Linked DNA regions of Homo sapiens: region 2 is linked to region 1. A link means that fine-mapping ties the variant in region 1 to the expression of a gene that starts in the linked region. Tissue or cell type: monocytes. Region 1 holds a variant in brackets; the other region holds the start of a gene. All regions are shown on one strand. Distances are between the middles of the regions.

Region 1 (8,203 bases):
GGGAGTGGACTCCTGTGTCCCCAGATTCAATGATGTTCAGAAAACATGTATTTTATTTTAGTCTTTAAATTTTTTGTTGATTTGACTTGGAAAAGTAAACCTAAATATTTTCTCCCGAAATGTTGAAATAACACAGAAGTATGTGTAAAAACCTGTAACTGCTTCACTTTACCCCTCCCTGCCTCAGGCTTCCCGAAAGTTAGACTCCATTAACTCTGATTATTTTTAGATGCCAAGGTACAGAGAAGACTATGGTCTTCCCAGCATTCTCATAAAAGGGCATGAGCTATCTTCAGGAGGCCCCAGTTAAAAGAGTATATGTTATCTGGACATGACACTAAAATTCCCAAAACCCCAAAGATAACAATCCCTTTCTTTAGAACTGCTTGGATATGTTTTGTATTTCCTCAGTAATGGCGTGCCATTGATTTTGAGAGTTCCGAGGTATATTACCTCTTGGCCTTTATTAAGCTAATTGACTTTTCCAGGAGGCAGTCTGTTTTTCCCTCTTATGACAAAGAGTCAGTCTTTGTGAGTCTAAACATCAGAAATAGAGAAGCATCTTGATTTGGGGAGTTATCCCAGGTAGGGTTCCCTGGGAAGCAGCCTCTGAGATGGAGTTAGTGTGCAGGAAGTGTATGGGGGAGTGCATTTGCCATCCACACCTGTGGAAGGAAAGAAAATGAAGCAAAATTGGGCACAGGAAGAAGTGGAGCTACCACACAGACATGATGAAGGCCACAGCCAACCCCACGGGAGTTCTAAAGATGGGGGACACTTCAGAATTGTCCTACACCGAGGCAAGAGGTCAGGGCCTCTAAAATTTACACACATCAGTCACTGGATTTGGGCTGCCCTGAGACAAAATTGTGACAATTGACGAGGCACCTCTCTTCAGCTGAGATAATCTCCCAAAAAGGCTGTCAGCTGAGGAAATAAGACCTTCAGTCCTGAAGAATGGTCTGACCTATGCATCACAAAAGTAATTTATCTAGGCCAGGCACCATGGCTCACGCCTGTAATCCCAGCGCTTTGGGAAGCCAAGGCAGGTGGATCACCTGAGGTCAGGAGTTCGAGAGCAGCCTGGCCAACATGGTGAAACCCTGTCTCTACTAAAAATACAAAAATTAGCCGGGCATCGTGGTACACGCCTGTAATCCCAGCTACTTGGGAGGCTGAGGCAGGAGAATCGCTTGAACCTGGGAGTTGGAGGTTGAAGTGAGCCGAGATCAAACCACTGCACTCCAGCCTGAGCAACAGAATGAGACTCCGTCTCAAAAAAAAAAATTAGTAATGTAACTAAACCCTTTGCTGTTTTACAGGGAGACCCACAGAGGCCTGGGCTTCCAAGACCTCCTATCTTTTTCATCCTGAGCTAATGCAATAGCAAAGTGCCTTGCAGAACAATCACCCCCAAAAGTTAATTAATTAACTTGACAACCACTTACTGTACTGAATTTTACCATATGGCAGATATTGTTTTGAATGCTAAAGCATCCCAACAGTGAACACAGTAGAGCTTACATTCTACTGGTGGAGGCACACAGATCCTAAACAGAAGAGCTGGTTAGAAGACACAGTATGTTAGACAGTGACTGTTATGGTGCGTATGTTTTTGCTGCCCCCCGTCCCAACAAATTCATATGTTGAAATCCAACCCCCAAGGTGATGGTATTAAGAGGTAGGGTCTTTGGGGAGGTGATTAGGACATAATGGCAGAGCTCTCATGAATGACATTTCTGTCCATATAAAGGAACACCAGGGAGCTTCCTTGCCTCTTCCACCATCTGAGGATACAGTAAGAAGACAGCTGCTGTCTAAGAACCTGAAGCAGGCCCTCCACAGATTTCTAATCTGCGGGAGCCTTGATGTTGGATTTTCCAGCCTCTGGAACTGTAACAAGTAAATTTCTGTTGTTGCTAAGCCACTCAGTCTGTAGTATTTTGTTATAGCAACCCAAGGATTACTATGAAACAGGGAAGGAAGCTAGGAAGTGCTAGGTGTGGTTAGGGGAGGGGTGAGGATTTCCAGATATGTGGAGCACCAAGTACAAAGGCCCTCAGGTGAGGGTGAGCCTGAGGTGTTTATGGAACAGCTAGGGGTCCAATGTGGCTGAAGTAAAACAAAAGAGGGAGAAAATATGCCCTGCGTGGTGGCTCACGCCTGTAATCCCAGCACTTTGGGAGGCCAAGGCAGGTGGATCATCTGAGGCCAGGAGTTCGAGACCAGTCTGGTCAACATGGTGAAACCCCGTGTCTACTAAAAATACAAAAATTAGCTGGGCATGGTGGCGCATGCCTGTAATCCCAGCTACTCGGGAAGCTGAGGCAGGAGAATTGCTTGAACTCAGGAGGTGGAGGTTGCAGTGAGCTGAGATCATGCCTCACTGTCTCAAGAAAATAAATAAATAAATAAATAAAATAAATATGGACAAGGAAAGTTGTGTTTCGCATTTCTTTCTATCTTTTATTTAAAAAAAAAAAAAAAGCTGGAAAAATCTTTGACTATGAGCAGCCCTACTTCTAATGTCTTTAGCTTTCACACTTTTCCCAAAATTATGTTCCTAAAACTAGCTCTGGTGGCAAAGTGCGTGGCATTCTAGGGTTCAAAATCCGTGTAACGTTGACCAAGTTTATTAACCATTCTAAGCTTTAGGGAATAATAACAGTACCCATGTCATAGGATTATTGATAGAATAAAAGGAAGTAATTTATGAAAAATGCTTAGTACAAAGATGAGCAAATAGTATTAATAAGTATTTAATAAACATTAGTTTTCATTAGTAATGCTACTATTATCATCCTCATACTTATTGTCATCACCATTCTTATTATTATTTTATTCATCCTACCTCAAAAAGTCCTCATGGCTCACTAATGCCCACAGAATGTTGTCTGAACTCTACAGCAGGCATTTAAGCCAATCATCTTTTAATGCATCTGTGTGTGTGTGTGTGTGTGTGTGTGTGTGTGTGTGTGACAGAGTCTTGCTCTGTTGCCCAGGCTGGAGTGCAATGGTGCGATCTTGGCTCACTACAACCTCCGCCTCCTGGGTTCAAGCTGTTCTCCTGCCTCAGCCTCCTGAGTAGCTGGGATTACAGGCGCTCACCACTAAACCGGCTAATTTTTTTAGTAGAGACGAGGTTTCACCATGTTGGTCAGACTTGTCTTGAACTCCCAACCTCAGGTGATCCTCCCGCCTTGGCCTCTCAAAGTGCTGGGATTACAGGCATGAGCCACCGTGCCCAACCTTATTGCATCTCAATTCATTCCCTGTATCCCATTACCACCCGCCTGCCCCATACTACAGCCTCAGCAAGCCATTTACTGTTATCCCTCATGCTTTACCTAAGACCACTCCTATTTCTTGGCCTGGCTGTGGCTCATGCCTGTTATCCCAGCATTTTGGAAGGCCAAGGCAGGAAGCTCTCTTGAGGCCAGGAGTTCGAGACCAGTCTAGGCAACATAGCAAATTTTGTCTCTACAAAAAAATTTTAAAAATTAAAAAATCATCTGGGCATGGTGGCACCCGCTTGTAGTCCCAGCTACTCAAGAGGCTGAAGTGGGAGGATTGCTTAAGCTCAGGAGTGTGAGGCTGTGATGAGCCATGATCATGCCACTGTACTCCAGCCTGGATGACAAAGCGAGATGCTGTCTCAAAAATAAATAAAGCCATTCCTTCTTTTTGTATTGCCTTTCTCTCAAATTTCTGGCTGTCAAAATATTACCTGTCTTTAGGACTCAGCTCAAATTAGGGGCAGTACAGCATAGTCTTTTCTTTTTTTTTTTTTTTGAGACGGAGTGTCTCACTCTGTCATCAGGCTGGAGTGCAATTCTCACTGCAACCTCCGCCTCCTGGGTTCAACTGATTCTCGTACCTCAGCCTCCTGAATATGTGGGACTACAGGCACGCACCACAACATCCGGCTAATTTTCATATTTTTAGTAGAGACGGGGTTTCACCATGTTGGCCATGATGGTCTCGATCTCCTGACCTGGTGATCCATCTACCTCGGCCTCCCAAAGCGCTGGGATTACAGGCGTGAGCCTCCGTGCTCGGCCTTTTTTTTTTTTTTTTTTTTTTTTGAGACAGAGTCTTGCTCTGTCACCCAGGCTGGAGTGCAGTGGCCCAATCTCAGCTCACTGCAAGCTCCGCCTCCCAGGTTCACGCCATTCTCCTGCCTCAGCCTCCTGAATAGCTGGGACTACAGGCGCCTGCCACCACGCCCGGCTAATTTTTTGTGTTTTTGGTAGAGATGGTGTTTCACCATGTTAGCGAGGATGGTCTCGATCTCCTGACCTCGTGATCCGCCCGCCTCCCCTCGGCCTCCCAAAGTGCTGGGATTACAGGCAGGAGCCACCGTGCCCGGCCCTTTTTTTTTTTTTTTTTTTTTTTCTCTAATTAGCCCTAGTACTCTAGAAAACAGAGCCCAAGGCAGGGATTAAAGTGCTAATGCTTCCTTTGAGAAGTGCAAACCCACAGCAGCTGGGATGGGGAAAAGGGGAAGTGGGGCAAGAAAAGATGTGGAGCAATATAAAGTAATGTTTTACTCTGTTGT[A/G]CAATATAAAGTAATATATTGCACAATATAAAGTAATATATAAAGTGCAATATAAAGTGCAATAATATAATGTATATATTATATATTAATATATATTAATGTTATATAATTATAATATTATAATACTATATTAAGGTAATATATAAAGTGCAATAATAATATAAAATTGCAATATAAAGTAATGTTTTACTCTGTTGTGCGGGTGCGTGCTCAGCACACAGAACTTCTCTCACATTGAGGTTGTCCGTGGAAGAGAGGAAGGTAGACGAAACCCTGTCTCCCGCTTCCAGTTGGCCAAAGTGTGTTTTTTGTTGTTGCGGTTTTGTTTTGTTTTATTTGAGACAGAGTCTCACCTTGTCACCCAGGCTGGAGTGTAATGGCGCGATCTCGGATCACTGCAACCTCTGCCTCCCAGAGTTCAAACAATTCTCCTGCCTCAGCCTCCGGAGTAGCTGGGATTACAGGCGCCCACCACTACGCCCAGCTAATTTTTGTATTTTTAGTAGAGCCACGTTGGCCAGTCTGGTCTGGAACTTCTGACCTCAGGTGATCCGCCCACCTTGGCCTCCCAAAGTGCTGGAATAACAGGCATGAGCCACTGCACACGGCCCTAATTGGCGAAAGTTTGCTCTGCAGGCAGAAACTACCTTGCATTCCTGCTTGCATCATTCTTTCCTTTTGCCTATCTGATCCTATGCCCTGCAGCACAGCATTTCATCCAAATCCGGAAGCAGTGGGAGAAGCCAGACATTCTGGAAGAGCGTCTGCTTGATCCAGCTGCAGAGCACTAGCCAAGGGGGAGGGCCTAGTTTGTCCTCAGCTGCGGTATGATTGAGGAGGTGGACCATGCCAGAGGATATGAGAAGTCACAAAGCATCTGTGTCCGTGCAGCATCTAAGAGAGTGGGTTCTAAAGAACATAGGAAAAGACCATTTCCTACCACTCACCAGCTGCGTGACCTGGGTAAAACACTTTATGCCAATGTTTTTTCTTTTTTCTTTTACCTTCTTATTTTTAAATAATTCTAAACTTACAGGAAGTAGCAAAAATAGTACAAAATTTCCACTATACCCATCACTCACTGCTATGGACTGAATGGTGTCTCCCCACAATTCATATGTTAAAGCCCCAACCCTCAGTGTGATGGTATTTAGCCTGGTGCCTTTAGGAGGTGATTTGGTTTAGATGAGGTCATGAGAGTTGGGTCTCATAATGGAATTAGTGCCCTTAGAAGAAGAGGCACCAGAGAACTTGCTACCCCCCTGCCATGTGAGAACACAGTAAGAAGACAGCCATCTGTAAGCCAGGAAGAGAGTTCTTATTAGAACCTGATCATGCTGTACCTTGATCTTGGACCTCCATCCTCCAGAACTATAAAAAAAATAGACTTCTGTTGTGTAAGCCACCTAGTCCGTGGTATTCTGTTATAGCAGCCCAACCTGCCATATGTCACCAATTGTTAACATTTTGCTGCATTTGTTTTATCATTCTTTCCTTCTCTCTCTCTCTCTCCATACACATGAATGCACACACATCTAATTATTACAGTTTTCTGAAGTATTTGAGAGGAAATTTATGACATCATGCCCCTTTATTCCTAAATACTTCAGAGTAAATTTCCTATTAACAAGGACATTCGGCTGGGTAAGGTGGCTCACGCCTGTAATGCCAGCACTTTGGGAGGCCGAGGCAGGCAGATCACCTGAGGTCAGGAGTTCAAGACCAGCCTGACCAACATGGAGAAACCCCGTCTCTACTAAAAATACAAAATTAGCCGGACATGGTGGCACATGCCTGTAATCCCAGCTACTCGGGAGGCTGAGGCAGGAGAATGGCTTGAACCCGGGAGGCAGAGGTTGCTGGGCAACAGGAGTGAAACTCCACCTCCAAAAAAAAAAAAAAAAACCAAGGACATTCCTGGCCAAGTGCAATGGCTCATGCCTGTAATCCCAGCACTTTGGGAGGCTGAGGCAGGTGGATCACAAGGTCAGGAGTTCAAGACCAGCCTGGCCAAGATGGTGAAACCCAGTCTCTACTAAAATTACAAAAATTAGCTGGGCGTGGTGGCGAGCGCCTGTAATCCCAGCTACTTGGGAGGATGAGGCAGAGAATTGCTTGAACCTGGGAGGCAGAGGTTGCAGTAAGCCAAGATCACACCACTGCACTCCAGCCTGGGCAACAAAGCGAGACTCCTTCTCAAAAAAAAAAAAAACAAGGACATTCCTTATATAACCAGAAAATAATGATCAAAATCAAGAGATTTAGCATTCATACAATAATACGATTATCTATCTAATCTACAGTCCATATTGACATCTCACCAATTGACCCAGAAACGTCCTTTATAGCAAATTCTCCCCATGTTTGTTCTTATTTGGTTAATGGGAACAATGACAGTGCCCTCTCATAAGATTGTTATGAGAATGACATGGTGTGACATATATAAAACACTCCAATACAGTGCCTGGCTTATAGGAAAAGTTCGACAACTGCTAGCTACTTCTATCATGTTTATAATTTCTTCAGTGAAAACTTTTCCAGTCCCCTTTCCGTCAATTCAGAATCAGCCTCTTCCAACTATATTTTCTTATCAGTGTATTTCTACATTCTTGATTGTACTTTCACGTATAGCCTTTTTTTTTTACAAGCTTTTAAAGACCCATTCCTAATTCCTCTTTGCTTCTTCCAATGGCACCAAGCATAGCACCTTGTACATAATAAGCCTCCATCAATTTTGGCAGAATTTAATTTCTTTGGATGAAGTGGAGGGTTGATTAAGGTGACTAGAGGAAATGTATCTCACAGTATTGCAATAGTAGATACAATTCTGCTTTTAAAGAGTTTATGTTTCATGTCAGGGAGAAATACACAAGTGAAAAGTTACAGAAAATAAGAAGATAACATTATATATCTTAAAACAGCCTCTGAGAAAGGTTTGAAAAGTAGGAGGAATAAAGAAAGAGGAGTTCTGGGAGCTCAGAGAAGCAAAAGGATCACATGGGAAGGAAAATAAAAAACTTCCAGAGACTGCTCAGCATGGCCTCCTCAGCAGAAGGGACTTCACGGAGGCCTGATAAACTAAAGTACTAAAAGACAAAGTTCTCAGTTCTACTTTCCCAAGGCTGTGGATCTGGGAAAACAGTTGAATTACATCTTGGCCTTCCTTGCTGAGATTGGGTTTTGGCCAAAGGACATGAGCAAAAGTGATGTGAGCCATTTCCAGGCCTGGCCCATAAAAAGCTCCCATGTGTGATCTCCCACTATTTCCCATTCTCTAGTAGCTTTGGAGGCCACATGTAGAAGATATTAATGCACAGGTAGAAAGAACATGAGTCTCTGCGTGACTACATGGAGCAGAATCCCCAGCCCCATCAACCCATATTGCTGTGACAAGAATGAGGAATCAACTTTACTGCGTTCCACCACTGAAACATGGATGTCATTAGTTTCAGCAGCTACCATTACATGCCCTGTCCAGTGCACAGTTAGAACTGAAGGCCAGATTCAGAAAACCTGTGTTTATATCCTAGCTGTGCCACTTAGCTACAGGTGAGCCATGGCAAGTCACTTCGGCTCGGAACTGCTGTGAGGATTATATGGAAGAAGACTTTGTAAACTGTGAAAGTGCTATAAATGTTAGATACT
Region 2 (8,176 bases), 76 kb after region 1:
AAAAAAAATCCAATTTCCTTAGCACTTATTCATTCAACATATTTTTGATGCCCACTATGTGCCAGGCACTCTGGGATGTTCCCAGTGACAAGGAACATCCCGCACTTGAGGAGTTTTCACTCTAATGAGAATATAAATTCCTCAGGGGCCCGGTATACAAGGCCTTTCCCTTTACATGAACCTGAGCCCACCTTTCTCCCACCTTGTGGTTTCCCAATCAGATAATAATTATAAGCATTTATTGAGTGTTTCTTGCATGTAGGTGCTATATTTGATGCCCTCATTTAATATTTATTGCAATTCCCTTGAGGAGGGTACCACTATTATCCCTAAAACATCTTCTAAAAGGAGGCTTTTGGCTGAGCGTGGTGGACTCAGAACTACATGCATTGCATTGTTGACAGTTGTTTATATATTGGTGTTTTGCACTCTGAACTCCATGAGATCAGGGACAAGTTCTGTTTTTGTTTTTATTTCCTCATCTTTTGAATATTTATCTGTATGCCTAGCCTATAGAAATAAAGAACAATGAAGTAATTTTCCTTGTGTCTTTGTCCCGTTGAGGCTGTTCTGGTACTCTTGAAAACACTATTCCAATGATTTTACTTTTCCTTATAGGATCAGATGATAGAAAACCTTTAAATATTAGCTATAACCAAGAAGAGGCAATGAAGATACATATAATTGCCAAAGAACCCTCTGCTAAAAGTTAAGAATGGTTTCACGTGGCCAGGTGCGGTGGCTCACACCTGTAATCCCAGCACTTTGGGAGGCTGAGGTGGGCAGATCACCTGATGTTGTCAGGAGTTTGAGACCAGCCTGACCAACATGGAGAAACCCCGTCTCTACTAAAAAATACAAAATTAGCCAGGCATGGTGGTACGTGCCTGTAATCCTAGCTACTTGGGAGGTTGAGGCAGGAGGATTGCTTGAACCAGGGAGGCAGAGGTTGCAGTGAGCCGAGATTGCACCATTGCACTCCAGCCTGGACAGCAAGAGTGAAACTCCGCCTCAAAAAAAAAAAAAAAAGAATGGTTTCACACTTTTCAAAATACCAAAGAAGCTGCTCTCTGTCTTTATAAACTATACCTTGGCCTATAGAGAATTGTTCTTGGGAAGACCGTTCACTCCTCAGGATGGGGATCTTGCCAAGGGGTTTTTAGGATTATCTACTGCTCCAGATACTCAGGAAGTATTCTGAATTTAGGATACAGCTAAAACTCATTAACTTTAGGTACTACCACTTCATTGCTACTGATGAATTTAGGTTTACATTTACCTTTGTTTAGCAAATGTTTCCCTGTGCCATATTTCAAATTAATTTTTTTTTTTTGAAACGGAGTCTGGACCTGTGCCCCAGGCTGGGGTGCAATGGCGTGATCTTGGCTCACTGCAACCTTGGCCTCCGGGGTTCAAACAATTCTCCTGTCTCAGCCTCCTGAGTAGCTGTGACTATAGGTGCCTGCCACCATGCCCAGCTAATTTTTGTATTTTTAGTAGATATAGGGTTTCACCGTGTTGGCCAGGCTGGTCTCAAACTCCTGACCTCAGGTGATCCACTTGCCTTGGCCTCCCAAAGTGTTGGGATTACAAGCATGAGCCACTGCACCTGGCCCCAGATGAATATTTAAAATATTCAAGAATACAATTTACCTTTCAGCACCTTGGAACACTTTATAGCCATCTCTGGTTGCACAAAAGCAATTTTAACACATTATCTTCTTGAATGAACTTTGGCTGAGGTTGAATTAAGTGGGCAACTGAGTGATAAATTTAATAATTCAGATCTTTGCTACATTCCTCTTCTAGCAGTTGGGATGAAATGAGGAGTGGAAAAAGTGCATGGCAACAAAGACGTCACTAAAAAAATATTTGTGGATTAAATAAACCAATAATTTTTTCTTCTTGCAAGATAGATGAACAGAAATTCATTGTTTAGCAAGGTCTGCCAAGCATACATTTTTAAGACCTTCTTGAAGCTGACTATTTAACACTTTCAACTCTGGCACCATGATTCTTGACTCCTACTTTGTTCTTGTTACTATGGCCACATGCTCAGCTGTCACCTAAGATGCTCTTAGATCTTAAGAAGAGCAGATGTATGCCCCACCTGTACATTTACTCATTTAACACATGTGCTGAGAGTTTACAGGGGCCAAACACTCACGTAGGCATAGGGATATCTGAGAAAAAACCAAAAACCAAAAACCAAATTTGCTGTACACATGAAGCTTACATGGAGCTCACATTTGTGCGTGTGTGTGTGTGTGTGTGTGTGTAGACAATAAGCATAATAAATCATAAAATATATAGAATGTTATAGCCAGATGCGGTGGCTCACACCTGTAATCTCAGCACTTTGGGAGGCCGAGGCAGGTGGATCACTGGAGGTCAGGAGTTCTAGACCAGCCTGGCCAACATGGTGAAACCCCATCTCTACTAAAAATACAAAAAATTAGCTAGGTGTGGTGGCGGGCGCCTGTAATCCCAGCTACTCTGGAGGCTGAGGCAGGAGAATTGCTTGAACCTGGAGGATGGAGGTTGCAGTGAGCCGAGATTGTGCCACTGTACTCCAGCCTGGGCAACAGAGTGAGACTCCATCTCAAAAATAAATAAATAAAAAAGAATGGTGCCAATAGTAAGAGCAGTTCCACTCACCAGAACTCAAAACCAGTATTTCTATGGGCTTCAGCTTCCTCATCTGTAAAATGGAGCTATAACATATTTTGTAGTATTGTTTTTTTGTTTGTTTGTTTTTGCTGCTCCAGTCAACGAAAGAGACACACTTTATTGAGGCTCCAGGGAGGCTGCCGTTCGAGGAAGGAAGAGCCTTGACCTTCTTGGGTTACAGGTTGTTGGTGTGGTCACACCTCTTGCAGCAGTTGACAGCACGGGGGTGCAGGCAAGCATAGCACTTGCGGCAGATCATCTTGTCACAGTTGTATTTCTGGGAGAGCTGGCAGAGGGAAGGCTCAATAATGCCACCTTACAGGCGCAGCACCAGGTGCAGGGTGGACTCTTTCCAGATGTTGCAGTCTGAGAGAGTTCGGCCATCCTCCAGCTGTTTGCCAGCAAGTATCAGATGCTGCTGGTCAGGTGGGATACCTCCTTGTCTTGAATTTTGGCTTTGACATTCTCAATGGTGTCACTTGGCTTGACGTCAAGAGTGATGGTCTTGCCCGTGAGGGTCTTCACAAAGATCTGCGTCTCTGCGTCTGCAGCTCAGTTGCCTTGCCGAAGAAAAAGATGACGGCAGATATTTTGCAGTATTGAGAGGATTAGAAATGAAATATGTTTGCCAAATGTCACAGTCTCTAATTGTAGGCCTCTTTACATAGTAGCTATTAATAGAGGCACATCTGCTCTTGTACAAGTAAGTGAACAATGTGTGCTGGACTGGAAGTAACTCTCTGGGAAATTTAGGACAAAAGGGGACTAGGGCCCAAAGAAGGAATGAGTCATCCAGCATACCTAGCTACCTATTGCTGACAAAAAGCTTTACTAATACCCAGTTGGAGATGAATAGGATGTGAGCTCTGGATCCGCTGATGTATTTATATATCCTTCCATTGCATGGCTTCAGTTCTTCCCAACTAAACCTCTCCTTATCTTTTTTTATTTTATTTTTTATTTTTTTGAGACAGGGTCTAGCTCTGTCACCCAGGCTGGAGTGCAGTGGCGTGATCTCAGCTCACTGCAACCTCTGCCTCCTGGGTTCAAGCGATTCTCCTGCCTCAGCCTCCTGAGTAGCTGGGATTACAGGTGCCTGCCACCATGCCTGGCTAATTTTTGTATTTTTAGTAGACACGGGGTTTCGTCATGTTGGTCAGGCTGGTCTCGAACTCCTGATCTCAGGTGATCCGCCCGCCTCGGCCTCCCAAACTGCTGTAATTACAGGCGTAAGCCACCGCGCCCGGCCAAATTTCTCATCTTTATGAAACACTCAAGAGAAACCTGTTAACAATAATGAAAATTATCAGCATGCTATGTGCCAGGCACTTTTATGAATATAAATCCCCTTAATCCTTCAATGAGCCTGCATGGCAGGTATTACAATCATCCCGTTACAGAAGGGATATTTGAGAGACGGCCTACAGGGTGGACTCAATAATGTGGCAGCTGGCCGGGTGTGGTGGCTCATGCCTGTAATCCCAGCACTTTGGGAGGCTGAGGCTGGTGGATCACCTTAGCTCAGGAGTTCGAGACCAGCCTAACCAACATGGTGAAACCCCGTCTCTACTAAAAATACAAAAAGTTGCCGGGCGTGGTGGCGCGCGTCTGTAGTCCCAGCTACTCAGGAGGCTGAGGCAGGAGAATAGCTTGAACCCAGGCAGCGGAGGTTGCAGTGAGCCGAGATCATGCCATTGCACTCCAACCTGGGCTGGTGCAAGACTCTGTCTCAAAAAAAAAAAAAAAAAAAAAAAAAGTGGCAGCTGTCGTGGTGCTCAGTGGGCGAGCAAGCACAGGAGGACACCTGGTCAAGTGTACCCCATCTTTCACGGTCCCTGAGTTGGGGTTCGTGCCTACTGGATTGACAGAAAAGAAACTTCCAGGAGTCGTGAAGACTCGTTAGTTGCTTCGGAGGGTTATCCTGGGCGTCCTTGACAGAGGTGGCGTCCTCCTTCCCTGCAGCCTCTAAAGAATGTAGTTAGGAGCCAAGGGAGGTGGTGACCCCCCACCCCATTGAGAACGTCAGGGGAGCTTCCGACTTGAAAAACTAGTTAGACGCTCAGCTTCGGTCAATTAAGCTTATACAAAGAGGGGCGGTGCGTCCTGAGGAGGTGGCACGGGGGAGGCGAGCGGAAGTCCGCCAGCCGCCGATTGGCTGGGACAAATGTCCGTCCCGCCTCCCTCCCGCCCCATCTCCCGGTGGCCTAGCGGCGCGGCCCGCGGGCGCGCTGAGGAGGCTGGCGGTGCCAGACTGGCAGGGGGCGTGACCCGAGGAGGCGGGGCGGGGGGGCGTGTCTTGCCTGGCCCCGGCGCCGGGCTCGTCACGGTTTGCGGCTCCGCCCCCGAACCCCTCCTCCTACGCGGCTCTCCTCCTTCCCGCTCGGTCCGCCGGTTCGCTCAGTTCTAGCTTCAGGTTCCACGCCGCGGCCTCGCTCTCCTACTAAAGCCAGCCCAGCAGTCGCAGCGCGCACACGCACGCCCCGCGTCTCCCGCGCCCGGCGCCCGGCTCTCCCCACGCGCGCACACCTCGCGCACGGACGCACCCACGTTTGTCCTCGCGCGCCGGGGGCTCGGCGGCGGCGGCAGGGGCAGCGGCAGAAGCAGGCAGACCGCGCGGGGCAGTACCGTAGCGGCCGTCACGGGCTGGCCGGCCGGCCATGGAGGCTGATGGGGCCGGCGAGCAGATGAGACCGCTACTCACCCGGGTAACGAGCAGGGTGAGGGCGCCGCGGCGGTGGGGCTCCTCCGCAGGGGGAGGGCGCGGGGCGAGGCAGACAAAGGCGGGGGGCGCGGCGGGCGTCGCGGCTCGGCCACCTCGTCCCAGGCCCGTCGCCCCTCCACCTCCCGGCGGCCGGCGCGCCTCGCCATCCCCTTTGTGTGGCGGCCTGGGGCGCGGGTGGGAGGGGGCCAGCGGCTGCGCTCGGGAGGCCCGAGTCGGGGCGGCCGGCGGCGCGCCGCGGGCATCCTCTGCGCGGCTCAGGCGGGACCCCGACATCCCCGCAGAGGCCGCCTGTGACCCCGACCATCCATCCCTTCCCTCAGCGCTCGCCTCCCCTGTTTCTTAGCGCGCTCCCCAGGCGGGGTCCCGGTTCCGGTTGCCTTGGCGCAGGAGTTTCAGATTAGCCCTCGAAAACCTATCTTTCTTCTCCTTCTAAGGAGGACGGCGGCTCCACCTGTCTCTAGCCCCAGGCAGTGGTGAAGAGCTGGTTGAATCTTTCCCCCTCTTTCCGAGTGTCCCCTCCCGCTCCGCGGTGCGCTTTGTTCGGTGAGTTCTCCGGCCGCGTGGACTGGCCGCGCTCCTTCCCGGCCAAGGCTCTTTCGCTGTTGCCTGCCGGGTCCGCCTTCTCCACTGGCTGGGACCCGGGGAGTATCCTCCTGCCGCAGGCCAAGTAGAAGGAGGAGGGTGTCCTGAGCTGTCTGGTGCTCCTTCTCTAACTCAGCTAGCAAGATCGCGTTTCCTACTGAGACTGGCTTTGATTTCAGGGTTAGAAGAGAATGGGGATGGACTTAAGGCCGGTGTTCCCATTTGTGATGATGGGTGAACGGCCCATGCTCAAGAAGCGGACTTCCTGCTTTCTTTAGAGCACATGCGTCCCCGCAGTTGTCTCTTTCTCCTTTCCAAGTTCGTGACTCAAAGGAGATGGAAGTATTCTAAATTTTCCTACTTCTAATTTTTACTATGCAACCAGCAAAGGCGGGAAGGTTGCAGGGAAAATTGTCCGGTCTTTCACAACTAAGAGGAAAATTACTTCTCCTATGTTTTTATTCAAGAGTTGTCTTTAAAACTGCCTGCCGGCTTTCCCTTTTAACTTTTAGGATTATAGTTAAGGTTATGGAAAGTAGTCATTCATTAGTTCAGTACGTTCATATAAGTTCTCTAACATAGAAGAAAACTCAGTCACCAGACAGTGAAGTCATTTAGCAGTGGTTATTGGAAGATAATTCACAGTGATGGTAATGGAATACTGGAAACTCATCCTAAATAATCTGTAATTATTATTATTATTATTTTGAGACAGAGTCTCGCTCTGTCGCCCAGGCTGGAATGCAGTGGTGCGATCTCGGCTCACTGCAACCTCCTCCTCCCAGGTTCAACCGATTCTCCCGCCTCAGCCTCCGGAGTAGCAGGAATTACAGGCACGCACCACTATGCCCAGCTAATTTTTTGTATTTTTAGTAGAGACGGGGTTTTGCCATGTTGTCCAGGCTGGTCTGGAACTCCTGACCTCAGGCAATCCACCCGCCTCGGCCTCCCAAAGTGCTAGGATTACAGGCGTGAGCCACCGCGCCTGGCCTTCTGTAATTCTTTGTGTAGCCTTTGAATAAACTGTTTTATAGTACTTTCTCTGTGTATTTCAAGTATGATGTTGTCTGTTCTTAAATTTATTTGCAAATTTTCAATTGAGCAGTAAAGTGCATTCGAGTTTTCACGGAGCTGGATAGAAACTATGGTGTGTTCTCAAATATTGCCTGCCTAGCTAGTAGAGAAAGCATGTGATAAGGCCATTGCCCTCCAAGTTATTCATTCATTCATTGTAATAACACTTATTTAGACTAGTGTTTATGCTATTTAAACTATTATTTACACTATTTACTGTAGTGGCCAACAAGGCAGAACCAACTCCATCCTAATATTTATTTATTTATTTTTGAGACGGAGTTTCGCTCTGTCACCCAGGCTGGAGCGCAATGGCCTGATCTCGCCTCACTGCAACCTCTGCCTCCTGGGTTCAAGTGATTCTTCGGCCTCAGCCTCCCGAGTAGCTGGGATTACAGGCATGTGCCACCATACTCGGCTAATTTTGTATTTTTAGTAGAGATGGGATTTCACTGTTGGTTAGGCTGGTCTCGAACTCCTGACCTCAGGTGATCCACCCACCTCGGCCTCACAGAGTGCTGGGATTACAGGTGTAAGCCATGGCACCCTACCCAACTCTATCCTAATAGAAGTGATATTTGAGTTGGGAGACAGATGACAAAGGAATTATTAAACACTGCTGTTAATGACGTGGTAGGGGAGCACTTTAGAAGGGTAAACCTCCTAAGTCTTTGAGAAGATAAGGCTTGGCTACTGTTAACATATATAAATCAATAATAGAAATCAAATACAGTAAACTAGCATATAGTCTACGAATAGAATGGGAGAATAGTAAAGCTGTAGGTTGAACTGATTTGAAAACAGGAAAGAGGAACTATTGGCGTTGATAAAATTAAATCTTCGCTCACCCAGTTTTGGTAAATAAAAGTCGTAAAAGTGAGAGATCATGATATTCATCAGTCATAACTCTAACTCGCAGCAGACTGCTCAGCATAGCCAAAAAAGTAGAACAAATTAATATTCATAAAATCCCATCTTAGATTTGTAATTATGCAAAAAAATGTTGAATAGATTGGTGGCAGTTTATATTACTCTGAAATTGGAGCCCATCTGTTTCATAGTTTAGCCTCTATGGTTGCTTCTGCTCCTAAAATTCTCTAATTTTCACTGATCAGGGTGTTGGGATAG

Alleles and levels. Positions count from the first base shown, and alleles are read on the strand shown. Sizes are in standard deviations (SD) of each study's normalised expression.
With allele G in place of A in region 1, the expression in monocytes of the gene that starts at base 5,070 in region 2 is higher (large effect, 1.3 SD a copy in Schmiedel 2018).

What was found. PIP is the estimated chance that this variant, and not a neighbour inherited with it, causes the effect.
Region 2: SLC4A7 starts here. The variant in region 1 is fine-mapped to the expression of SLC4A7 in monocytes (TOPMed, PIP above 0.99).

What each region holds. Positions count from the first base shown.
Region 1 is chr3:27,557,143-27,565,345 of GRCh38, reverse strand. No RefSeq gene overlaps it. Among named protein-coding and RNA genes, the nearest start is that of SLC4A7, 77 kb to the right of the region's middle. The variant A/G (reference allele first, on the strand shown) is at 4,559.
Region 2 is chr3:27,481,278-27,489,453 of GRCh38, reverse strand. It overlaps SLC4A7 (solute carrier family 4 member 7), which reads left to right and starts at 5,070. Exons shown (of 26, transcript NM_001321103.2): 1 at 5,070-5,387. The coding sequence starts at 5,328. It also overlaps the pseudogene UBA52P4. RefSeq lists enhancers at 4,412-4,541, 5,020-5,796, 5,812-5,871, 5,902-6,111, 6,272-6,331 and silencers at 4,672-5,151, 5,182-5,541, 5,572-5,641.